Regions from separate parts of the Homo sapiens genome. Here region 2 is linked to region 1. Evidence: fine-mapped expression QTL. A gene starts in region 1. The other region holds a variant in brackets. All regions are shown on one strand. Distances are from middle to middle.

Region 1 (9,077 bases):
CATCTCCAATTCCTCTCCTCCCTCAAATCCGTCCTGCCAGGCACTGGCCCCCTTCCCTGAGTCACAAGCAATGTCTGCTAGGCGAATCCCTGCTCAGTCCTCAGGCTGACTTGGCGGTGGCATCACATAGCCACTCCCTTCCCTCTGCCCCTAGACACCTTCCTCACCAGGTTTCCAGGAGACCTGGCAACCTCCTGCCCTTTATCCTATTTAGGGAACACTTATGCAGTGCTGGTGTCAGGCGCCACTCTGTGTACATTGCAATTATTAGCCAATTACCCTACGAAGTGGGTGCTGTTCTTGTCCCTGTTTTACAAGGGAGGGGAGAGGGGACGCACAGAGAGGTTGAGTAACCTGCCTGAGATCACACAGCCAGGTCTGCAGCTCAGGGGCTGCTCCAGTGTCTGTGCTGAGCCTCCCTCCCCTCCTGCTGCTGCCTCCCCTCCTTCTCCGGGCTTCTGAACACCAGCAGGGCTGGACTTACTCTCCTGGACTCTGCTCTGCTCCCAGGACCTGGTCCAGGCTCCCGGCTCTAATCTTCACCACGTGGCCACCCTGCCTGCACGTCCATCCCCCAGACCTTGCCCTGAACTCCAGAGCTCACCTCGACCTACACGCCTCCACCCTCCCACCCCTCTTTTCACTGCTCACAGGGACAGCTTTGTTCCCTTTCTCCCTCTTTTTCTCGCCCTGTGGCACCCTCCCCGCTCTGTGCTTGCCCCTACCGTAGTTGGAGCCACCCCAACCTGTGGCAAGTTTGCCTTCCCACTCCCTCCCTGGTCTCTTGCTTCTGCCCTGGCTCCCAACAGTCATTTCCCAACACAGCAGCTCCAGACATTTTACCCTGACCAGCAAGGCTTCATGGGACCTGCCCCACCTTGCCCTCTGACCCCCTCCTGCCCCTTCCCTGCCAGGAACACTCCAGGTGAGGCACAGCCCCAGAGCCTCTATCCTGGCTGTGCTGTCTGCCTGATACAGCTATCCCCAGGCAACCCCAGGTTTCCTCCCTCTCCTCTTCTGGTTTTTGTTTGTTTTCTGTTTGTTTGGAGACAGTGTCTTGCTCTGTCGCCCAGGCTAGAGTGCAGTGGCGCAATCACAGCTCACTGCAGCCTCAACCGCTGGGCTCAGGCGATCCTAGATCTTCCCACCTCAGCCTCCCGAGTAACTGGGACTACAGGTGCGCCCACCACGCCCAGCTAATTTTTAAATTTTTTTGTAGAAATGGGGTCTTCCTGGCCGGGTGCGGTGGCTCACGCCTGTAATCTCAGCACTTCGGAAGGCCGAGGCAAGCAGATGATCTGAGGTCAGAAGTTCAAGACCAGCCTGGCTAACATGGTGAAACCCCATCTCTACCAAAAATACAAAAAAATTAGCCAGGTGTGGTGGCTCACGCCTGTAATCCCAGCTACTCGGGAGGCCAAGGCAGGAGAATCCTTTAAACCCAGGAGGCGGAGGCTGCAGTGAGCTGAGATTATGCCACTGTACTCCAGCCTGGGCAACAGAGCGAGACTCGGTCTCAAAAAACAACAACAACAACAAAAAAGAAATGGGGTCTTCCTATGTTGCCTAGGCTTGTCTCAAACTCCTGGCCTCAAGGTGAGAAAGAAAAGTTAGGTAGTTAGATAAGAAAGCCTGCACAGACCGGGCGGGGTGGCTCACACCTGTAATCCCAGCACTTTGGGAGGCCGAGGCGGGCGGATCATGAGGGCAGGAGATGGAGACCATCCTGGCTAACACGGTGAAACCCCGTCTCTACTAAAAATACAAAAAATTAGCCGGGCGTGGTGGCAGGTGCCTGTAGTCCCAGCTACTCGGGAGGCTGAGGCAGAAGAATGGCGTGAACCCGGGAGGTGGAGCTTGCAGTGAGCCGAGATCCTGCCACTGCACTCCAGCCTGGGGGACAGAGCGAGATTCCGTGTCAGGAAAAAAAAAAAAAGTAGCCCCTGACAGCCCCCCAAAAAGAATCTCAAATATCAGTGTAAAAAAGTCCGTGACTTACAACTAAAAATTACAAAACTACAACAAAGGGATCCTCCCCTCTCAGCTTCCCAAAGTGCTGGGATTACAGGTGTGAGCTATCGCGCCCAATGGGATTTTTTTTTTTTTTTCTCGATGGAGTCTTGCTCTGTCACCCAGGCTGGAGTGCAGTGGTGCGATCTCGGCTCACTGCAACCTCCGCCTCCCGGGTTCAAGTGATTCTCCTGCCTCAGCCTCCCGAGTAACTGGGAGTACAGGCACCCACCACCAAACCTGGCTAATTTTTGTATTTTTAGTAGAGACAGGGTTTCACCATGTTGGCCAAGCTGGTCTGGAACTCCTGATCTCATGCTCTGCCTGCCTCGGCCACCCAAAGTGCTGGGATTACAGTGATGAGCCACCACTGCTAATGGGATTTTTGCTTGAATCTATCCTCACTGTATTCCCTGACCTCCCCATGTGATACTGCAGTTCTCCCATTCTCCCCATGTCACTTAGCCTCCCTGCTCTTTCTTCTTCCGTAGCTTTGTCACTTTCTAACGTTGTTATTTATTTTATTTTATTTCATTTCATTTTATTTTTGAGACAGAGTCTTGCTCTGTTGTCCAGGCTGGAGTGCAGTGGCACGATCTTGGCTCACTGAAACCTCCACCTTACAGGTTCACGAGATTCTCCTGCCTTAGCCTCCTAAGTAGCTGAGACTACAGGCACCTGCCACCTGGCCCAGCTAATTTTTTGTATTTTTAGTAGAGACGGGGTTTCACCGTGTTAGCCAGGATGGTCTTGAACTCCTGATCTCATGCTCTGCCCGCCTCAGCCTCCCAAAGTGCTGGGATTATAGGCATGAGCCACCGCGCCCGGCCACGTTATTTATTATATTTTACTAAATCCTGTCTTTATCTGAATGCAAGGGATACTTGGCCTGTTTTATTCACCATCACTGTAGGTTGCTGAGTAAATGTTGAATTAACGAATGCATCACTGAATAAGTTACTGATAGCCTGCACACAGGAAGTGTTGGGCTGGGGTTCTCCGTGAACCTGGGGAAGTGAGGAGGTTTGCAAAGACAGGAAGAGTCTGGGGTGGGGAGATACCCAGGCTAGGCTGGGGAGATACCCAGGCTAGGCTGGTGGCGCTCAGGGGAGAGGACAGAGGTGAGGGGACTTAATAAGCACCTAGAGAGATGCCTAAGACTCTCAGTTAACCGTCTAAAGTAGGGACACTTTATTGCCATTGCACAGGTAGGGAAACTGAGGCCCAAGGGAATTAACCCTGACCTGGCCAGGAGCCAATGGAGGAAACCCTGTACAGTTTGATGCACAAATATTTATAGAGTTCCCACTAGGCTCCCAGACCATCCCTAGGAGCCGAGCTGCCCCTTGACCCCATCCAGGCCTCAGTTTCCCCGCTCACACTTCGCCCCCGCCTCGTGGGATTCTAAACTGTTGCTCCAAGGTGGGAGTTGAACGGAAACTACAACTCCCGAGAGGCTGTGCGGCCAAAGACACACGAGAACTACGGAGGCGAGAGACTCGCTCAGCCAACTGCCGCTCTCGTAAGGCTCGGGCTGCCCTTGGCGCTGCCGATCCGAGACGTTGCTGCATTCAGGCATTCGCCGACGACAGACCAGCGCGGGGCGGGGTTAGGCGGAGGGGGCCTGATTCGGATTCGGCGCAGGCGCAGTCCGCGCGGGTTCTCGCGCGGAGAAGGGGTGCGAGCGGCGGCGGCGGCGGAGGCTGCCATGGACGACGAGGAGGAGACGTACCGGCTCTGGAAAATCCGCAAGACCATCATGCAGGTGAGCCGCGCCTGGTGTTGGGGGCGGGGGCGCGGGCGGCGGGTGTAGGGGCCCGAGGTGGGGTCGAGCACGGCGTCTCCTCGTACTCTCGTCGGAGCAGCAGCGATGAAGGGCCGGGCCGATACGGGAGGCCCAGAGGTCGCCGGGGATACCAGGCGCTGGACCCGACCTGAGCCGGCAGCGGGGAAGGGAGGGGGTTTCGAGACGTCTGGGTGCGGTGCTTAGGGGTGGGTGGGCGGCTTGGGCTGGTGCGGCGCGCGTGGCGGCGAGAGGAGGAGGAAGCCGCGAATGGGGACGGGGGGCGCCCCCAGACTCTGCCCTTCTCTGTGATTCAGCGTCGCTATTTGTCCTTGCGTCCTGAACCCCATGGAGTCTTCAGCATCCGAGGCTGGCAGAGTTGGTGGTTGGGAAGCAGCGGGCGAGCTGGGGCTTTCGATGGGGACGTGGAGCTCGGAACCCGTGCCTTGGGGTCTGGGGCAGATGGAGGCCACTGGGTCGAGTCCGGTTTGGAAGCCGGGCACAGGCCTGAGGACCTGCGGTTCAGGGTATTGCCTCAGCCATTGGGGCCGTTTGAGAGCTTTTGCTTTGTCTTGCTTCCCACCCTTTGCCCTTGTCCTCAGCGAAGCCCCCCGCAGCCTGATTCTTCTTTCTCCGATCCTCAAACATTGTCAGCCTGAAGTCACATCTGTTTCGGTCCCTGTCATTTTTTTTTTTTAAGAGATAGGGTTTCATTCTGTCGCCCAGGCTGCAGTGCAGTGGTGCAATCATAGCTCACTGCATCCTTGAACTGGCCTCCAGCAACCCTCCTGCCTCAGCCTCCCTAAGTACTGGGATCACGGGCGTGAGCCTCCGCGCCCCGCCTTTGTCCCTGCCTTTAGGGTAGCTCTGCAAAGTGGTTTGGAGGGCTTTGCTCCCTGCCAGGTTTCTGTGAGGCTGGGTGGACAGACGGTCTTGGTCAAGGCTGGACATCTCTGGGAGCCTCTCAGGATCATACTGGTCCCATCCTGTGGTGTGAGGCTGTGGGGGCCGGGGTGGCTGTCATGGAGCACACAGTGAGTGTTCATCCCGTTTGCTGTTCACCTCTGTCCTCTGCAGCAGCCGCAGGTCTGACTTCCGGGTCACGAGCTTTGGCCGCCTTCCTCTCTCTGCCCTGGGGTCAGCTGGTTCTTTCTCTCTGCAGCTGTGCCACGACCGTGGCTATCTGGTGACCCAGGACGAGCTTGACCAGACCCTGGAGGAGTTCAAAGCCCAATCTGGGGACAAGCCGAGTGAGGGGCGGCCGCGGCGCACGGACCTCACCGTGCTGGTGGCCCACAACGATGACCCCACCGACCAGATGTTTGTGTTCTTTCCAGGTGAGCAGCGGGTCCCGGGGGAGTTCCGGTGAAGCCACCAGAGCACCTGCCGAGGAGCCGGTCGCTAGCACCCACCCCCACTCGCCTGGTGCCCAGCATTTGTCTCTCTGCCCAGTCTGGGAGGAAAACTCCCCTCCCCTTCCTTGCTGTGGGTGATGCCGTTGATCTCTGACCCCTCTCATGCTCAGCTTCTTTCTAGTTTCCCTCTCAGTCCCCTTCTCTCTTCCTGCCAACGAGGAGAGTCACAAGGGCCTCCCCACTCACCCCCAGCCCCCCATGTCCTTTGCCCTAGTGTCCCTTGGCTCCCCCATCCTGGCCGTTGGGTGCACTTCCAGCTTCTTGGCCTGGCCCAGGAGGCCCCGTCTGGGTCAGCGCAGCCTCCTTGTGAGCTGCGGCCCCTGCCCGCCCCAGCCCATTCCTCCGCACCCCATGCCCCCTCTCCCCTGTCAGCGTCCGGTACTCGTCCCTCGAGCTTGTGCTCGGGCCTCTTTTCCCAGGACCCCTGGGACCCTCGGTTTCAGCACCTGCTTTGCGGAAGTCTCCGCACCTGTCTGCCTCCCTAGTATGGCTCTAAAGCCCTCAGCGGTTGGGGGATTGCAAGCGCCTTAGGGGCGCAGCCCCACGCCCAGAATTAATCAGTGGGGTGACGGAGCACGTCTGCCAACCGGACCTGGTGACGCTGCTGGGTTTTTTTGTTTTTTTTTTGTTTTTGTTTTTTGAAAAAGAGTCTCAATCTGTCGCCCAGGCTGGAGTGCAGTGGTGCCATCTCGGCTTGCTGCAGCCTCCACCTCCTGAGTTCAAGCGATTCTCCTGCCTCAGCTTGAGTAGCTGAGATTACAGGCACCCACCACCACGCCTGGCTAGTTTTTCTTTGCATTTTAGTAGAGATGAGGTTTCACCATGTTGGCTAGACTGCTTTCAAACTCCTAATCTCAGGTGATCCGCCCGCCTCGGCCTCCCAAAGTGCTGGGATTACAGGCGTGAGCCACCGCGCCCAGTCTTTTTTTTTTTTTTTTTTTTTGAGACTGAGTCTCCCTCTGTCACCCAGGCTGGAGTGTGCAGTGGCGCAATCTCAGCTCACTGCAACCTCCACCTCCCAGGTTCAAACAATCCTTCCACCTCAGCCTCCCAAAAAGCTAGGTTTACAGGCATACACCATCTCACCTGGCTACTTTTTCTTTTTGTATTGTTTATTAATTAATTAATTAATTTTTTTGAGACAGAGTCTTGCTCTGTTGCCCAGGCTGGAGTGCAGTGGCGCAATCTCTGCCCACTGCAAGCTCTGCCTCCCGGGTTCACGCCATTCTCCTGCCTCAGCCTCCCGAGTAGCTGGGACTGCGGGCGTGGGCTAATTTTTTGTATTTTTAGTAGAAACGGGATTTCACCTTGTTAGCCAGGGTGGTCTCGATCTCCTGACATCGTGATCTGCCCACCTTGACCTCCCAAAGTGCTGGGATTACAGGTGCGAGCCACCGCGCCCATCCTGTATTGTTAATAGAGACCGGGTTTCACCATGTTGGCCAGGCCGGTTTAGAACTGTTGACTTCAAGTGATCCACCTGCCTCAGCCTCCCAAAGTGCTAGGATTACAGGTGTGAGCCACCGCACCCGGCCTCAGGTGATGCTTCTTAAAGAGAGCGTCCTGGGGTGTGAGGTCTGCTTGTTGGAGAGGTTGGTGCTGAGTCACCCGCCTCCCCAGAACTGCCCAGGGTGGGAGCCTCTCAGAGTCGAAGGTCTCTGCTTCTCCCTGGTCTCTGGGTGACTGAGGGGTGTCAGCCCCCTGTCCCTGTCTCCGGGTGAATGAGAGGTTTCAGCCCTCTCTTCCCCTGTCCTGGGATCCTGCAACTCAGGCCTCGTTTTGCAAACGCGGAAGCCGAGGCCCGAGCAGGAGAGACACCTGTGTGGAATGGGGCTGGAACCTGGGTGCTCTGGGCTCTGGGTGGGCGAGGGCCACGAGGGCCCAGGCTCGTGCAGGCCAGCACACTCTCTGTCTGCAGAGGAGCCCAAGGTGGGCATCAAGACCATCAAGGTGTACTGCCAGCGCATGCAGGAGGAGAACATCACACGGGCTCTCATCGTGGTGCAGCAGGGCATGACACCCTCCGCCAAGCAGGTGGGCACCCCTGCCCCACCCCGCCAGCCTCTCCCCCTCCCCAGCCTCCTCCCGCAAGCAGTACCCACAGGCGGCCCACGTGCCTTGGGCTTTGGGCCAGGCCAGCCAGGGTGCCCTGGAGGATGTGGCCGGGATGTCCGGCAAGCCCCGACCGCCTCCCTCCCACCGCGTCCATGGGCCCCACCCCAGGCAGCCGCCGTCCTCCCCCAGCTCTCAGGAGGGGCGTCAGGGCGGAGGGCACTGTGCCTCTCGCCAGCTCCTGTGGGCTCCAGCCCTCGGCCTGGTGCAGATTCCAGGAGCCGGAGGTTCTTTATCCTGAGCTGATGTCCAGGGGGACTTGCAGAGGAGGCCCGGCACGGGGTCCTCCAGGGGCCTATCCGTGTTCCCCGTCTGTCTGTCGGACACTCTGGAGCCAGGCTGCTGTGCTGTGACGGGCAGTCAGCAGAGCAGTTTAGTCCCTGGCCCACCAGCTGTGGGGTTCACGCAGCCACACAGAGCAGCACCCCTGTATGGGGAAGAGGTCGCCCTGCCAGCTCTGAGGGCCGCCCCTGGAAGCGTGTGATGGATGGAAACACATCCGAGTTTCCACGGCCACTTCACTGCTGGATGAGGCTCTCGATGAGCAGAGAGGCTGGGGAGGGGCGGGCTGTTGAAGGCTCCTGGGCTGGCGGTGGGGTTTTCTGATTCACGACGTGGGTGTGTTGTTGGGGCACACGAGTAAGCCCCAGGTAGCTTGAGGCAGGAAATGGGGTTGGGGTTGTCTGGGCCCCTCCGGGCCGTGCCTTAGAGCCGCTCTCTTCCAGTCCCTGGTCGACATGGCCCCCAAGTACATCCTGGAGCAGTTTCTGCAGCAGGAGCTGCTCATCAACATCACGGAGCACGAGGTGGGCGCGCGCCGCGGAATCCCGCCTGCGTGGGGCCGGCAGAGATGCAGCGTTTGTGGGTGGCCAGGAAGATGTGGGATCTGGGGCCCAGGGCAGGTGTTCCTATTAGTGCATGGAGGACAGGGTTCTCAAAGGGTGGCCCTGGGCCTGCAGCAGCCGAACCCGGGAGCTTCCTAGAAATGCAGATCCCGGCCGGGCGCGGTGGCTCACACATGTAATCCCAGCACTTTGGGAGGCCGAGGCGGGCGGATCACGAGGTCAGGAGTTCCAGACCATCCTGGCTAACACGGTGAAACCCCGTCTCTACTAAAAATACAAAAAAATTAGCCAGGCGTGGTGGCGAGCGCCTGTAGTCCCAGCTACTCGGGGAGCCGAGATTGTGCCACTGCACTCCAGCCTGGGAGACAGAGCAAGACTCCATCTCAAAAAAAAAAAAAAAAAAAAAAATGCAGATCCCGGGCCCACCCCAGCCTGTAGAATCGGGACTGCTGGGAGTGTGGAGGGACCCTAGTGCTGGGACAGGAGGAGTCCCAGCAGGAGGTGGCTGTGCCCAGCCCGTCTGCCTCAGAAGCCCCAGGAGCTGTGACTCCGTCCCCCGCCTGTGGAGCCAGGGTGGGGTGGGTGGGCTCCCTGAGTGCCGGGGATCGGGGTGGGGTTCAGGGCTCTTGTCCGTCTGAAGGCGCAGGGGCTGTGGTGGCACCTGGGAGCCACGTGGGGTCTCACCAGCCCTTGGTGATGCCTGGTGGCTTCCTCTCTCGGCAGCTAGTCCCTGAGCACGTCGTCATGACCAAGGAGGAGGTGACAGAGCTGCTGGCCCGATAGTATCCTTTCCAGCCCCACCGGCCCCGCCCCTCCCTGTCCCTCGAGACTTCCGCGTTCCCCCCCCACACACACCCCTGCCCCCCCAACGGCCCTGTCTGGCATTTTCCTGACGGTGCTTCGCAGTAAGCT
Region 2 (15,717 bases), 66 kb before region 1:
CTCTCGGGGTGGCCCTGAGGTCTGGGCACCCAACGCTGCCCCGGGGTGGGGGTGTGGATGCTTGAATTGCTTGCCGACTTTGGAACACCAGGGGCTGCCACCCTCAAACGCAGACTTGTGGCTTCTCTTGAAAAACCAGATGATCTAGAAACCCTGGCCACATTCCTGCCCACAAGTCTCCGCTGCCCCTCCCCAGGGGTGCACCTGTGTGGCCCCCTCCCCCAGCTCTGGTGAGGCGGCTCCTGCCCCACTTGGAGGATGTGGGAGGGGTGGGGAGGTTACACTGAGAGGGGGATACTCGAGCTCCTCATCCACAGCCTCTGGGCCCCTAAAAGGAGTGGGAGCGTGTCCCCGGAGCCTGCTCCCGTACTCAGTGGCCGGCTTTGCTCCTGGCTGGCCGTTCAGGAGCCTGGGTTTCCGTGCACGCGGCCTGACCGCAGGCTGAGACCTCATGGCCTGGCGCTGTGTACTGCAGGTCTGGGTCAGCCCCAGAGAAGCCACCGTCCCCCCCACCCCCTGGAGCCGTGGGTGTGGTGCCTCCCGGGGCACAGGGGCTCTGCAGAGGGGTCGTCCTGGATTCCTCGGGTCCCGGCATCGTCACAAATGTCCTCATGCGTGGGACCCTTCTCCAGCTGGAGGAGGGGAGGTCAGGTCAGAAGCCTAAGAGGGACCTTGCCCTGCTGGCTTTTAGGAGGGAGGGATGGCGTGATGGGGGACGTGGCTCCCCGAAAGCAGGGAAGTGGGGCCTCAGCCCAGTGGCCACAGGGAGCAGAATCCCGCCCCCGGCCGAGCTCAGGCGCGGACTCTCCCGGAGAACCCAGACCAGGGCCCAGGACAGCAGTGCCTTGACCTTGGCCTTGGAGCCGTGGCCGTGGAGCAGCCAGCCCACCTGGACCTCTGACCTGCTGGGCCCAGAGAGGGCGCGTGGGTGTCGTTGTCAGCAGCTACGTTTGAGGGAAGGTGGATCAGGCCGCACTGGCGAACCTGGAGTTCCTGCTTCTGTGATTTCGGGCCCTCAGTTCCCTCCTCCAGGCGTGGAGCAGCGCCTAACTGTGCGGCCATTGTCAGGACAGGGTGCGTAGCTCCAGCAGTCAGCGCTGAAGTCTCGCTCTAAGCGGTCTTGGAGCTGCCGTCCTCAAGCCCAGCCCGAAGCCAGAAGGGACTCTTCCTCCTCCTCCAGGACCTGATGCCCTCAGGGCTCGGATGCAGGTCCTTGTGACATTTTTGTCACCAAGGCTGGACTTAAGCTCAAGGACAGTGGTGACCGGTCGAGCCACTTGTCTGGGATCAGCATAGCCCGGCTGCTGGCAACGCTTGGCACTCCCCAAGGAGCCAGGTGGGGAGACCTTGTGGCCTGAGGCCGCTGATGTGAGGCAGTGACAGTAGCAGGTGTGGGATGGGCCAGACTACCCTCCACATGGATTGAAGACACACAAGGGCACCTCCATTTCAAAGGACCGGAAGTCTGGAGTGAGTGGGGATTTAGCTTAACGTCTGCTCAGGAGAAAAAGACGTGTAGGTTAGAGGGGACCACAGGCTCAAGCTCAGCATGTTAAAAGGTTTTTAGCGTGTGTGGCTTTTAGCGTGTGTGTGTGTGTGTGTGTGTGTGTGTGTGTGCGCGTGCAGTTGCGGTCTCGCTCTGTTGCCCAGGCTGGTCTCCACCTCCTGGGCTCACGCAGTCCTCCCAGCACTGGGATTACAGCCACGGGCCACCGCACTGGCCCCAAAAGACTGAAAATAAACACAAGACCCGAGCGGGCTCCTCACAGCAGCAGAAGCCGCGTGGAAGCTGCTTGGCTGCCACAGAAAGCCGCACCACCCTGTCCAGGCGGACAGGCCTTTAACCGCCAGGTAGCAGTGAGGCCCGCTCGGAGCATGGGGACCCTGCTTTGGAGCCCCGCAGCCCGGCCTGGAGGCTGTTTCCGCATAAGCATTTGTGTCGTGGAATCTCCTTTCCACTCCCTCACCGGGCCTCCCTCTGGGCTGGGGTCTGGGATCTGGGGTCTGGAATCTCGGGTCTGGGATCTGGGGATCCGGGGATCTGAAGTCTGGGATCTGGGGTCTGGGGATCTGAAGTCTGGGATCTGGGGTCTGGGGATCTGAAGTCTGGGATCTGGGGTCTGAGATCTGGGGTTTGGGATCTAGGGTCTGGGATCTGAGATCTGGGGGTCTGGGGTCTGGGATCTGGGATCTGGGGTCTGGGGTCTGGGGTCTGAGGTCTGGGATCTAGGATCTGGGGTCTGGGATCTTGCGGTCTGGGATCTGGGATCTGGGGTCTGAGATCTAGGATCTGGGGTTTGGGGTCTGAGATCTGGGATCTGGGGTCTGGGGGTCTGAGATCTGGGGTCTGGGATCTGGGGTCTGGGGTCTGGGATCTGGGGTCTGAGATCTGGGATCTGGGGTCTGGGGGTCTGAGATCTGGGGTCTGGGATCTGGGGTCTGGGGTCTGGGATCTGGGGTCTGAGATCTGGGGTCTGGGGTCTGAGATCTGGGGTCTGGAGTCTGAGATCTGGGGTCTGAGATCTGGGGTCTGGGGTCTGAGATCTGGGGTCTGGGTACTGGGGTCTGGGGTCTGGGATCTAGGGATCTGAAGTCTGGGATCTGGGGTCTGAGATCTGGGATCTGGGATCTGAGGTCTGGGTTCTGGGATCTGGGGTCTGGTTCCCCAGATGTGGTTTCTTCCTAAAAGGCATCGGCCTCACATTCCTGGCTTGGGACTCTTGCTCTGTCCAAGGGTACGGGACTGAGTGCCAGCAACCACCACTACTCCACTTGGCTCTGACTCTGGGCCTGGACTTCCTTCTGTTCTCAGGGACAGCAGTGCTGCCTTGGGGGTGCCCGGCACCCTGCTCGCATCTCAGCCACGACGTCCCCCTGGCCCTGTGGCTTCCACTTTCGGGGTTGGCTTGGGATGAAGCACCAAGGCCCCTCCCCAGGGCCTCCTTTATTCCCTTTCCAGGCCTGCATTCGGCACCGTGCTGACCATGCCTGGTGGGGCTGTGGGGTCAGCTGAGCAGCCCTGACCTGGTGGAGCTCCTGACGGCGGGGTCAGATGTCAGGCAGGGCCACGCTCAACTCCGGGTCCTCCCTCGCATGGCGGGGGCTGCTGCGCAGGGGTTGCTGGATCCTACCTGTTGGGCGTGTGACCCTGGCTCGGGCTGGACGCCTTGTTTGCTTCAGGGCAGTGGAGTCTTGACCTCCTCCGGGCACACCCTGTGGAAGACCCACAGTGCCGCCGCTGCCTCCTCCTCCTCCTCCTCCTGTTCCTCCTCCTCCTCCTGTTCCTCCTCCTCCTCCTCCTGTGCCTCCTCCTCCTCCTCCTGTGCCTCCTCCTCCTCCTCCTCCTGTTCCTCCTCCTCCTCCTGTTCCTCCTCCTCCTCCTGTTCCTCCTCCTCCTCCTGTTCCTCCTCCCTCCTCCTGCTCCTCCTCCTCCTCCTCCTGTCTCCACTGCCCCTGGCATCTGGGATGTCCCCACAGTGTCCTAGCACCTGTTCCTCCTCCTCCTCCTCTTCCTGTTCCTCCTCCTCCTCCTCCTGTTCTTCCTCCTCCTCCTCCTCCTCCTCCTGTTCCTCCTCCTCCTCCTCCTGTTCCTCCTCCTCCTCCTCCTCCTGTTCCTCCTCCTCCTCCTCCTGTCTCCACTGCCCCTGGCATCTGGGACACCCCACAGTGTCCTAGCACCTGTTCCTCCTCCTCCTCCTCCTCCTCCTCCTGTTCCTCCTCCTCCTCCTCCTGTCTCCACTGCCCCTGGCATCTGGGACGTCCCCACAGTGTCCTAGCACCTGTTTCTCCTCCTCCTCCTCCTCCTCCTCCTCCTGTTCCTCCTCCTCCTCCTCCTCCTCCTCCTCCTGTCTCCACTGCCCCTGGCATCTGGGACGTCCCCACAGTGTCCTAGCACCTGTTCCTGTGCACGGGGGAGGCTTTGTGCTGGAGCAGGACAGGAGGTTTGGCAAGAGAAGCTGTCAGTTCGGCCACCCGCTCAAGCTGTTCCTGCTCCTGGCCATCTCCGAGCTTGGGAACTTTCCCTCCCATGGCACCAGCCCCTTGGCCCCTCCGGAAGGCCCCGGAAGCCATGGGCAGGGGCTTCCCTCGAAATCGGGGTGCAGTGTGAAGCCCCCACGGCCAACACCCTTGAGCCCTCCCAGGAGAGGGGCCGTGATGGCCGCGGGCCTGAGTTTCCAGAGGACCCACCTGGAGGGAGGTCCTTGGTCGGGGGGAGGGGAGCTTCCTGGGCGCTGGGTTCCGACCCCGTCCTCAGGGCGCTGAGTCTGGCCAGTACACCTTTCCCTGTGAGAGAAGCACGTGGGCTCCTGGGGTATGGGGCGGTGAGGCTGCAGTGCCCCTTCCACCTCCAGGCAACCGGGGCCACTGCCGTTCCTCGTGGGGCGGGGAGAACTTGCTCGCCCTGGACCCCGGCTCCTGCCCTCCTGCCGGGCCCACCTCGTCCTCATCCTAAATTGAGGGGCCGTCCCCCAGCATGCTTGAGAAATGTCAGGCGGTGCTGGGCCGGTCTGGGGCCCCCAGGCTTCCCCGGCGCCGCCTGGCCTGTGCCTGCGCGTGGCAGGGTCCAAGCTCGGGAGCGGTGGCCTCTGCCCGTGGTTGGCAGCCTGGAGCCACTGCGGTCCAGACGCCTCCTGGGATGCTGTGGAAATCCACAGACAGCCTCGTGCCGCCTCACCCCAGGGCACCCGAGTCCTCGTGCTCACGGGAGTCGCGTGGGGCTCAGGGCTGGAGCAGCCTCCTCCCTGGACGAGCTTCTCGTGGCGGCCGCAGCAGTGCTGCAAACTGGGTGGCTTAGAGCAGCCTGTCCCTGTCCTGGAGGCCACAGGAAGCTGAGGTCAAGGAGTAGCTCCAGGGGAGGACCCTTCCTGCCCCTCCCAGCTTCCGGGGCTCCAGGCGCCCTTGGTCTGCGGCCGCGTCACTCCAGCCTCTGCTCCGTCTCCATGCGGCCGTCTCCCGATGTGTGGGTGTCCACGTTCCTCTTTTCTCTTAAGGACATGAGTTGTTAACAGGGACACAGACCACCCCCTCCAGCATCCTCATTGTAACCAACCACGTGTGCAAAGACCCTGTATGCAAATAAGGCCCCACCCACAGGTGCGGGTAGATGTGAGTCTGGAGGGACTGTAGTCACCCCGGTGCCCTCTCTGTCCCTGGCACTCCCTCTTGCACCTCAGGACCAGCCTCCAAATCGTCACTTACCAGATCCTGTCTTGGCCTTGTGGCCCGCAGGCACTGTGGGGTCTGATCCTGCCCCCATACGTCCCCAGCACAGGCTGTCCCTGGGGCTCTGTCCCGTCCACATTGGTGGCCCTGCAGCCCCAACGTCCCCTCCCCTCTGCCAGTTGGAGTCTGGAATGTGGGTGGACGATGGTCTGCTCTCTTCCCACTGAACGCTGTCCGGCGGCTGGACTGGGTGTGCATGTAGCTGGTCTACAGGGTCCTCACATGGGCTAGGGAAACCAGCGTCAGGTTCCTGGTCTCCGTTTCTCTGTGTGTCAGATGAGGGGCTAGACCAGCTCTGGGGAGCTCTGGAGATGGGGTTGAAGGTCAGGAAGGCCTCTCTTGGTCTGGAGGTTGGGCTCCACCTCACAAAGCTGGGAGAAGGTTGCCGGCCTGGAGAAGTCTGGTCCCTCAAGGCCGATGTCAGCTGGTCCCTCCGGGGCGTCAGCCTCCTGCCTCTGGCAGGCTCGTATGGGTGAGAGGAAGCCAGATTTCCACCTTGCAGGGGTTGAGATCCAGGCTCCTGCCCCCAACAGCGTTTCTTTTTTTTTTTTTGAGACGGAGTCTCGCTCTTTCACCCAGGCTGGAGTGCAGTGGCCCGATCTCGGCTCACTGCAAGCGCCGCCTCCCGGGTTCACGCCATTCTCCTGCCTCGGCCTCCCGAGTAGCTGGGACTACAGGCACCCGCCACCACGCCTGGATAATTTTTTGTATTTTTTAGTAGAGACGGGGTTTCACCGTGTTAGCCAGGCTGGTCTCGATCTCCTGACCTCGTGATCCACCCGCCTTGGCCTCCCAAAGTGCTGGGATTACAGGTGTGAGCCACTGTTCCCGGCTGTATTATTTTAAAAAAGAATAAAACCTTAACTTTAAAAGACCCCATCCCTGCTCCCGTCTAGGGTGTGGAGTGGTCCCTGAGCCCTGTGTCCCCCACAAAGGAGCCCCACAGCCTCGGGGCCAGGAGGGCGCCTGCAAAGGCCCCAGGCGCCATCTGTGGCCGTGCCCGCTCACCTTGGGCCAGGACGTCCGTCTGTCTGGCCGGCTGCTGGGGAAGCTGTATGTCGGCTCCTCCCCGCAGGCCTGGCCCAACCCCCCCCCCCCCCCCCCCGCGGCTCCCCAGGGAAGGGAGTGGATCGGCTTTCACCCTCCTGGCCCTGCCGCCTGACTGACGACTCTTTCACAAGACAGCAGAGCCATGACACCCACCACCTGCGTCAGGGAGGCTCCGGGCCTCACAGGTGACCCACACAGCTCCCTACGCAGTTCTGATAACCTTGGCAGCAGACTTGAGAACTTTTAGAAAATTTCAAGAGGAGAGGTAGAAAGCGTAGTATGACGTGGCCGTTCCTAAAATGTGGGTCCTGGGCATCCTGAGACCCGCTTCATCGGGCCCAAGAGGTAAAGCTGTGTTGAGACAGGAAGGCACCCCCACCCCCAGCTCCCAGTGCTCAGGCACTCCCACCCCCACTTCCACCCCCCCAGTGCTCAGGCACCCCCACCCCCATCTCCACCCCCAGTGCTCAGGTACCCCCAGTGCTCAGGCACCCCCACCTCCACCCCCAGTACTCAGGCACCCCTACCCCCAGTACCCAGTACTCAGGCACCCCCAGTACCCAGTACTCAGGCACCCCCACCCCCAGTACTCAGTACTCAGGCGCCCCCAGTACCCAGTACTCAGGCACCCCCACCCCCAGTACTCAGGCACCCCTACCTCCATCTCCAGTGCTCAGGCACCCCCACCCCCAGTGCTCAGGCACCCCTACCCCCAGTACCCAGTACTCAGGCACCCCCACCCCCACCCCCAGTGCTCAGGCACCCCTACCCCCAGTACCCAGTACTCAGGCACCCCCACCCCCACCCCCAGTACTCAGGCACCCCTACCTCCATCTCCAGTGCTCAGGCACCCCCACCCCCACCTCCAGCCTCCAGTGCTCAGGCACCCCCACCCCCACCTCCCGGTGCTCCCGGTCTGGCTGTGCCTGGCTGGAGGAGCAGCCTGAGCTTTCTGGGAAGCACCTCAGGACCCTCCACCCTTTCTTTCCGTCCTCGGGCCCTGCCCACCCTGGGAGGGGCCGTCCAGAGCAAATGCCCCCTTGTGGTCCTGGCAGAGCTGCCCACAGGTTTCCCTGGCCACAGTCTAGTGAGTTACAGAGATTCATGTTACTATGAAAATGATTTCCATTCGGGCCGGGCCTGGTGGCTCACGCCTGTAATTCCAGCACTTTGGGAGGCCGAGGCGGGCGGATCACCTGAAATCGGCAGTTCGAGACCAGCCTGGGCAACATGGTGAAACCCCTTCTCTACTAAAATACGCAAATTATCCGGGCCGTGGTGGCGGGTGCCTGTCATCCCAGTTACTCCAGAAGCTGAGGCACAAAAATCACTGGAACCCAGGAGGCGAAGGCTGCAGTGAGCCGAGACCCCCAGTGGGTCCACAAAAATCACTGGAACCCAGGAGGCGAAGGCTGCAGGGACGAGACCCCCGGTGGCTCCAGCCAGCTGCCTCTGTTCTGTAGCCACCCTCTGTGCGTCCTCCCCCGGGTCTCCCCACTGCCCTTCGGGGGTGTCCACCAGGCACTCACTGCAGCCAGGCGGCCGCCATTGTAATACTGGGCCTCCTGTGAGGCCGCCCCGCAGACCCCCCGAGGCCTGGGCAGGGGTGTGGGAGTGGTTTCTTCATGGGCTCTTGGTGCATGAAGTTGGATGTACCCAGTGGGTGGGGGGCTGCCCATGAGGGCCTGGGGACCGTGAGCGGCTTGCTGGGCCCCAGCCGGGCTGCAGGGATGTGGGTGAGCGGCTGCTCTTCCTCTGCCAGGCCCAGCCCTTCCCGCTCCCTCAGCCTCGCTGCCGGGGCAGCTTCCCCCATCACAAACAGGTGCCAGGCGCAAGCTGCCCACCAGCACCCACAGCCAGAGGGCGGGTGCTGCCCCTGGGGTGGAACGTGTGAGAGGGTGGTGCGGGAATGTGGCCGCGTGGCGGGGCAGGCGGGGGCACCCGGAGGCTGATGGCTGCAGAGAGCAGCACTGGCGTGGGCAGGGGCAGCGCCGGACACTCTGGGGTCTCCCTCACCCACCTCCCTTCCCTGGCCCCCTCCTCTGCCACTGCCCAGCTCTGTGGGGGGCGAAGTCCTCTCAGGCAGGCACCTTGGCCCAGGAGTAGGGGAACCTCACGGATGTCTTGAATGTGTCCCCTCCTGTCCCCCCACTGTCCCCCCGCTGTTCCCCCACTGTCCCCCACTGCCCCCCGCTGTCCCCATCTCCCCGCTGTCTCCCTGTTGTCACCCCGTCCCTTGCTGTCCCCCCGCTGTCCCATCCGCCGCTG[C/T]CCCCCCACTATCCCCCACTGTTTCCCTACTGTCCCCCTGCTGTCCCCCCACCATCCCCCGCTGTCCCCCCACTGCCCCCCACTGTCCCCTGCTGTCCCTCCACTGTCCCCTGCTCTTCCCCCGCTGTCCCACTGTCCCCTGCTGTCCCCCCACTGTCCCCTGCTGTCCCCAACTGTCCCCTGCTGCCCCCTGTCCCCCCACTGTCCCCTGCTGTCCCCAACTGTCCCTTGCTACCCCCTCTTGCTACCCCCGTCCCCCCAAGGTCTCTCACTGGGCTGACCCTCCCTTGGCTCCAGCCCTTCAGGCCTCCCTTGCCCCGGGCTCCATGTTGAGGGACGAAGCGCTCTGTCTGCAGGGGTCAGGACCTGAGACGGCCTGCAGTGTCCTCCCCACCAGACGGTCCTGGCGGCCGAGTTGGGGCCTGCCCAGGTGCCTGAGCTTGCAGGGCTCTCTGCCCCATATTAGCTGAGCCTTGTGAAATCGCCAGCCCCCGCCCCCTGCACCCGGTCCTAGGATGCGAGTTGTGCGCCCGCCAGGTAGAGGGTGATTGCCCTGTCTTGAGCCCATCTGGAGGCCAGTGTGCGGTGGTCATAGCTGCAGGTGGGGTCACGGCTGTGGGGCGGCGGTTGCAGCCGCAGGTGGGGTCATGGCTGCAGGTGGGGTCATGGCTGCAGGTGGGGTCGCGGGTGCAGGTGGGGTCACGGCCGTGGGGCGGCGGTTGCAGCTGCAAGTGGGGTCACGGCTGCAGGTGGGGTCGCGGCTGCAGGTGGGGTCACGGCTGCAGGTGGGGTCGCGGCTGTGGGGCGGCGGTCACAGCTGCAGGAGGCCATCACGGCTGTGAGGTCACCGGAGGCCGCAAGTCCGCTCTGTCTTATGGCCGTGGCTCTGTGCGGGGTTCCCGGGACACCCGGGGGCCTGCTCCTTGCCATCTTCAGGTCCTGGGACGCAGGGAGCGCCTTGTGCCTGCCCGGAGAACCTCGGCTGAGGTAATGCGGCCTCCAGGGACTGTGCGGTGGCCTCTGCCGGGCTCCATCACCACGGTCGCGCCCGCTCGCCCGGGCCTCGCCGCCTCCTCCTCAGACCTCCATGTCCGCCTTTGCTGGCGCAGGCCTTGAGATGCTGCCGGGTGTGCCAGGAGACCAGAACCCGGGCCTGGGCGGAGCGCTCTGGGGTGTGCCGTGCGCCCTGGGTCCTCCCGTGGTCTCGGTTATGGCTCTGCGGCCAGTGTCTTCTCAGGGTCTCCGCTTTGCCGTCGCGAACGTGGGCACAGCGTGGCCTGAGCTGCTGAGTCTGGCTCTGGGGGTCACGTCAAGGCTCCACCTAGGGGCCTCCGTGTCCACATCCGAAAGTGCGGGGGTCACAACCCTGCTCGGCGAGAGGACGGCAGGAGAACCGGGCTCCGAGGACACAGCTCCCCATCTGCAGACGGCTCGGGTCTGAGGGCGGAGCGCGCGAAGGGGCTCCACACGACAGGTGCTCAGGGACCCCCAGGGGGAGGGTCCGCACAGTGGCCAGTTCTGAACATCAGGAGGCTGAGCTGTTGCTGCACAGCGTGGGGTGAGACCCTGGGGCGTCCAGCCAGGAAGACGGGGACTTCAGCAGGCTCAGAAGAAAGAGGCGGGAGGCGGCCGCAGTTACCCGGACTCAGGAGAGAGAGACGGGAGGCAGATGCAGTTACCCAGACTCAGGAGAGAGCTGGGAGGCGGACAGTTATCCGGACTCAGGAGAGAGCTGGGAGGCGGACAGTTATCCGGACTCAGGAGAGAGCTGGGAGGCGGACAGTTATCCGGACTCAGGAGAGAGAGCTGGGAGGCAGATGCAGTTACCCGGACTCAAGAGAGAGAGCTGGGAGGCGGACGCAGTTACCCGGACTCAGGAGAGAGCTGGGAGGCGGACACAGTTACCCGGTTCCTCGGATTCTCCCGGATCTTGGTCCTGTCTGAGGTTCTGCCTTCCCAGTGGTTGTCCTGTCTGGGCCACCAGCACCTTCATCGTTCTCTTTTACAACGACTCCCTTGAAGACCTGATTTCAGAAGGAAGCCACATCCCCTCTGGGTGTCAGCGTGCTGATAAAGCGCGGGCCCCCTCCCAAGGTGGGAACCGTGTGACCCCCGCCCCCCCAACCCCCACACCACGCATCCCTCCAGTCATGGGACTCGCGCCCAAAAATAAAACCAGGCAGGGGACACGCTCTGCTGCCCGCTGGACGTTTGGCTGGCCCGTGGCTCTGAGGCTCGGGGTGGGCCGTGTCACCGGGGCCGCGTGGGGAGAGGGTCTCCGGGGCCGCGTGGGGAGAGCGTCTCCGGGGCTGCGTGGCAGAGGGTCTCCGGGGCCGCGTGGGGAGAGCGTCTCCGGGGCTGCGTGGCAGAGGCTGCGTTGGGGTGTTCTCAGGCCCCAAGACCCCACCCAGTGTCCCACTAGGGTTTATCCTGGGGATTGGGGCAGCTGGATGCCCCAGAGACATGGCGTGGTCACAGCTGCTGCAAGAAACGGCGGCGGAGTCAATGGGGGAAGGGTCCGGAGGGCTCAGGACCATGGGGTGGGAGCCAGCCCTTGGGGGCGTGGGCCCTCGGACAGGACCGAGTCTGCAGGCAGGGCTAGGGGCTGGGGGCTGCGGGAGGGCCTGGGGATCGGGGCAGCAGGGGTTGTGAGATATGGCCGAGGACAGGGTGGGAGGCGATGGGGGGCTGGCAGTGGGCGGAAAGGCAGGGCTGTGGGTCCTGAGGGATTGCAGAGGGTGGGCGTTCTCAGGAGTGGCGGGTCCTGGGGGATTGCAGAGGGTGGGCGTTCTCAGGAGTGGGCACAGCCTGAAGTGTTGGGTTGTGGGGGGACTTGGAAATGGGCCCCGGGTGCAGGGTCGCCCCAGCCCGGCACCCACGCATCCCCTTCTGTCTCTGGATGGGCCCGTCCTGGACAGTGCATAGTAGTGGGATCACACACATCTGTGCCTGGCGTCTCTCACAGAGCGTGACGTCCTCAAGGTGCGTCTGCGCTGTGGCCTAGGTCGGCCTCGCTGCTGTTCATGGCTGTGTCGTGTTCTGGCACGTGGATGGGCCACGCCACATGCTGGTCCACTCGCCTATCCGTGGACACTGGGCTGCTTCCTCGGGTGGCTGTTGTGAGTGGTGCTGCTGTGGACGTGCATGGCCACGTTTCTGTGTGGTGTGGAATTGCTCGGTGGTGTGGTGACTCCAGCGTTAGCCTCTTGAGGAATCCCAGACTGCCAAGCAGCCGTGTGTGAGGATCCGCCTCCGCCTCCGCCTCCTGGTTTTGGGCCCTGACTCTTGGTTGGTTGTGCCTGGTGTCCGCATTGTTCTCCTGCCCCCATCCCCTCCCGGTCCAGGTCTCCACACCCTGCCAGGTCCCCAAGGCATGGACTCCAGGTCACATGCCATGTGTGAAGCCCTCCCCTTGAAGAACCCGGTCCCCTGAGCCTCCTGGGGTTGCCGCCTGGAAGGGGCGTCCACAGACGTGGGGGGCTCAGAGACCGTAGGGAGGGAGGAGCTGCCAGGAGCACCGTGCTGGCCTAGGGGACTCGGACACAGGCGAGCTCAGGGCCCCTGCTGCTGGAGGGGTCCCTCAGCTATGGTGTACCCCGAGGACGGTCATGGGGTCGCCCCAGAGCTGCCCAAGGTGCCCCCTCCCCAAGCTCCGTCCACCGTGGGGCCTGGGCCCTGCTGCCCATCAGCTCAGGACTGTGTGGCCTCAGAGCTGAGGAGCGCCCTGAGTGTGGAAAAGGTCAGCGTAGCTCTGGGGCTGTGGCTGCCGTGAGATGGAACCTGCAGCAGGAAGGGGTGCTGACAGGAGCTGAGGGGAGTCCCTGCAGGGGAGGGGCTGCTGAGCCCCAAGGCAGGGGGTGGGCCACCCCCTAGCACTGGTGGGCCCCTGGATGGGGACCCCGGTATCAGCAGCTGCCTTGGGCCCAGCAGAGCTGTTTGTGGCCACCAGCACACGGGGCCGGGGTCGGGGGGTCCCAGGCTCTACCCAGAGAACCTGTCTCCCAGAGGAACATACCGAGGCTTGGAGGAGCTTGGGTGTCTGAGGTTATTCAACTCAGAAGGTGGAGCCAGGCTTTGATCCTGCCTGACCCAGAATCTTTGACAAGGATTGGCCAAGACCCCAGATCCCAGCGGGCCTGTCCCTTCCCCTAAAGGGCCGTTCTGGCAAGGGTGTCGCAGGTCCCCGTGGGCAGCTGGAAGGGCTGCCAAGGGTCCCAGCTCTGGTGGCAGTGGGTTGTAGCGTCCTGACTGCAGGGAGCAGGCAGAGGCCGCGGACAGTTGGGACGGCCTGGCAGGGTGACCCCCACTGTGCCTGACCACCTCCATCTGGTCTCTGGGACAGGAGTCCCGACCCCCAGCCCCTGTTGCCCGGCCACTGTCTCTGGAGCGCCGGGCAGAGACGTGCCTCTCCCCCACGGGATTGCACAAGTGCCTGCGTGTGGCTGGACGGCAATTACTGGAAGTCCCGGAGATTTCTTCACTCCAGGGCTTGGCCGGGAGTGGCCGCCGCCTCCCCTTCCTGCCGCCCTCGGCAGTGAGCATGCTGGGCGGACGCCTGGAAAGCTTTCCCTGCCACCACGGGCCAGCCTGGGTCCCTGCACTCGCCAGGTAGGGCCTGGTGGGGGCTCAGCCTGGCGGGCGTCTGGCCGTGTGCCAGAGGCCGCGGGGCACGTGGGAGCTGTCCCTGGCGTCTGATGGTGTGGGGCTCGGCTCTGTAGCCCAGGAACGTTCTCAGTGGGGATGCTGGTGTGTGATTAGCCTGAAACGAGGTCTGGGTGCTCTTCCAGCTCTGCGTGGCCCCTGACCCCCCTCCTTGGGAGACCTCACTGTGGAGCCCCTGCTGCCTCTGAGGGACAGGGCTGGGTCCAGTGTCCCCTGGGCTCCCCTGGGTGCCGGGCCCGGGTTGGACTCTCCCTCCACAGTCTCACACCGGCTGCTGACAAAGCCAGATGTGGGGGAGTCAGCCTGCAGCTCCACTGCTCACAGTCTGGGTGCCTGGTCCTACGGCTGCCCTGTGACCTGGGCAGCCCTGTCGGGCCCACCTTAATCGTTGTAGTTGGGGCCGGGGAGGCCAGGAAAGGCGCTGTGGGCAGCACAAAGGAGTTGGGTGGCACTGCTGATGGCGGGTGGGGGTGAGTGGGGAGGGGAAGGAGCGCCTTTTGGTTCCGGCCCAGGAGGTAGCAGGAGCTGCAGCCCAGGCTGGGACCGGTCATGCCCGAGGGAGAGGCGGCCGGGGAGCACCACTCTCCACCACCGTTGGACTCTCAGGACGTCCCCGTCTCCCTCTGCAGATCATGATGCTGCCGCCACCGCCGCCACCACGGAGCGAGAAGCCCAGATAGACGCCCCGGCGGCCCCGGGTCCTGGAGTCCCGCCGCCTGCTGCCCGGCCGAGGACCCCACCCCGCCTGCCGCCCGATGCTTGCAGTGGGGCCCGCCATGGACAGGGATTACCCGCAGCATGAACCCCCGCCGGCGGGCAGCCTCCTGTACAGCCCGCCGCCCCTGCAGGTGAGCCCCACCCCCGGCCCCGGCCCACCCGACGGGGTCCACGGGCACTTGCCCCGCTCCGAGTGCCCGGGGTCACGTCGTGCGGAATGCTGCCCCAGTGGACGCGGCGTGATCTCCACCTGACCTTCCTGGCCCGGAGCCCGGCTCCACCCGCCCCCGTGGGCCCTGGAGAAGGGTCCCCATGGGGATGTGAATGGGAGGCTACTCATGGCCCCAGCTTTTCAAGAAGCACATTTGAGGAGATTCTCCCTGCTGCAGAGCTTCCAGTTCCTTCGCCGTCAGCTGTAGGGGGGGCTCAACTTTACTTGTAGGAACCTGTCAGTGAGGGAATTACTTAAAAAATATGTTTCTGGCCAAGTGGCTCGTGCTTGTAATCCCAGCACTTTGGGAGGTGGAGGTGGGCAGATCACCTGAGGTCCCGAGTTCAAGACCAGCCTGGCCAACATAGTGAAACCTCGCTTCTGCTAAAGATACCAAACTTAGCCAGGCGTGGTGGCGGACGCCTGTAATCCCAGCTACTCGGGAGGCTGAGGCAGGAGAATTGCTTAAATCTAGGAGGCAGAGGCTGCAGTGAGTGGAGACGGCGCCACTGAACTCTAGCCTGGGCGACAAGAGTGAGACTCCATCTCAAAAAAATGAAAAATAGGCCTGGCACGGTGGCTCACGCCTGTAATCCTAGCACTTTCAGAGGCCAAGGCGGGCAGATCACTTGAGGTCAGGAGTTTGAGACCAGCCTGGCCAACATGGTGAAACCCTGTCTCTACTAAAAATACAAAAAATTAGCCTGGCGTGGTGGCAGGTGTCTGTAATCCCAGCTACTTGGGAGGCTGAGGCAGGAGAATCGCTTGAACCTGGGAGGCAGAGGCTGCAGTGAGCAGAGATTGCACCACTGCACTCCAGCCTGGGTGACAGAGCGAAACTGTGGCTCAAAAAGAAAAAAAAAAATTTTTAAATTAAAAATATATAAACGTGTATATATATATTTATTTTTATTTTATTTCATTTTATTTTATTTTGTTTTGTTATTTTTAAAACACGGTTTCACTCTGTTGCCCAGGCTGGAAGTGCAGTGGTGCGATCTCGGCTCACTGCAGCCTCTGCCTCCTGGGCTAGTGATTCTCCTGCCTCAGCCTCCTGAGTAGCTGGGACCACAGGTACGCGCCACCATGCCCGGCAGATTTTTAAAATTTTCTCGTAGAGATGAGGTTTTGCCCCGTTGGACACGCTGGTCTCAAACTCCCGGGCTCAGTTGACCCGCCTGCCTTGACCTCCCAAAGTGCTGGGATTACAGGCGTGAGCCACCGCGCCCGGCCCTGCCTGGGGATTTACCTGGAGACAGAGGGGCTGCCCTCTCCTATCAAGCAGCAGGACCTGCTCCAGGACTCCAGGGTCTCCTGGGTACTCCCTAGCCCAACACCCAGGTTGGCCTGTGGGGCGAACATCACAGACACCCCTCGGCAGTCCATCCTCAGAGGGCTTTGGGCAGCTTCCTGCCATGTTCTGACCGTCCAGAGGGGGCTCTGAGCTGGGGCCAGGGTACCCCTCTCGTAGCAGGGTCCCTGTTGCGGCCCAGACCCCTCCTGTCCCCCTCCCTAGTTCCTGAGTCCCTTGGGGTTGAGGCTGGATCCTCACAGCTGCCCCGGTGGAGCTCGAGTACCGGCCGTCG

What was found. PIP is the estimated chance that this variant, and not a neighbour inherited with it, causes the effect.
Region 2: its variant is the best candidate, but not a certain one, in a credible set for the expression of POLR2E in whole blood (INTERVAL, PIP 0.62).

The regions. Positions count from the first base shown.
Region 1 is chr19:1,089,957-1,099,033 of GRCh38, reverse strand. It overlaps POLR2E (RNA polymerase II, I and III subunit E), which reads left to right and starts at 3,659. Exons shown (of 8, transcript NM_002695.5): 1 at 3,659-3,775; 2 at 4,956-5,130; 3 at 7,127-7,242; 4 at 8,046-8,126; 5 at 8,889-8,947; 6 at 9,072-9,077. The coding sequence starts at 3,719. RefSeq lists enhancers at 3,626-3,715, 4,473-5,008.
Region 2 is chr19:1,152,518-1,168,234 of GRCh38, reverse strand. SBNO2 (strawberry notch homolog 2) reads left to right here. Exons shown (of 32, transcript NM_014963.3): 2 at 13,833-14,051. The coding sequence starts at 13,959. It overlaps LOC102723798 (a long non-coding RNA gene), which reads right to left and starts at 4,784. Exons shown (of 4, transcript XR_007067079.1): 1 at 4,704-4,784; 2 at 4,189-4,284; 3 at 3,025-3,213; 4 at 1-1,494. The variant C/T (reference allele first, on the strand shown) is at 8,542.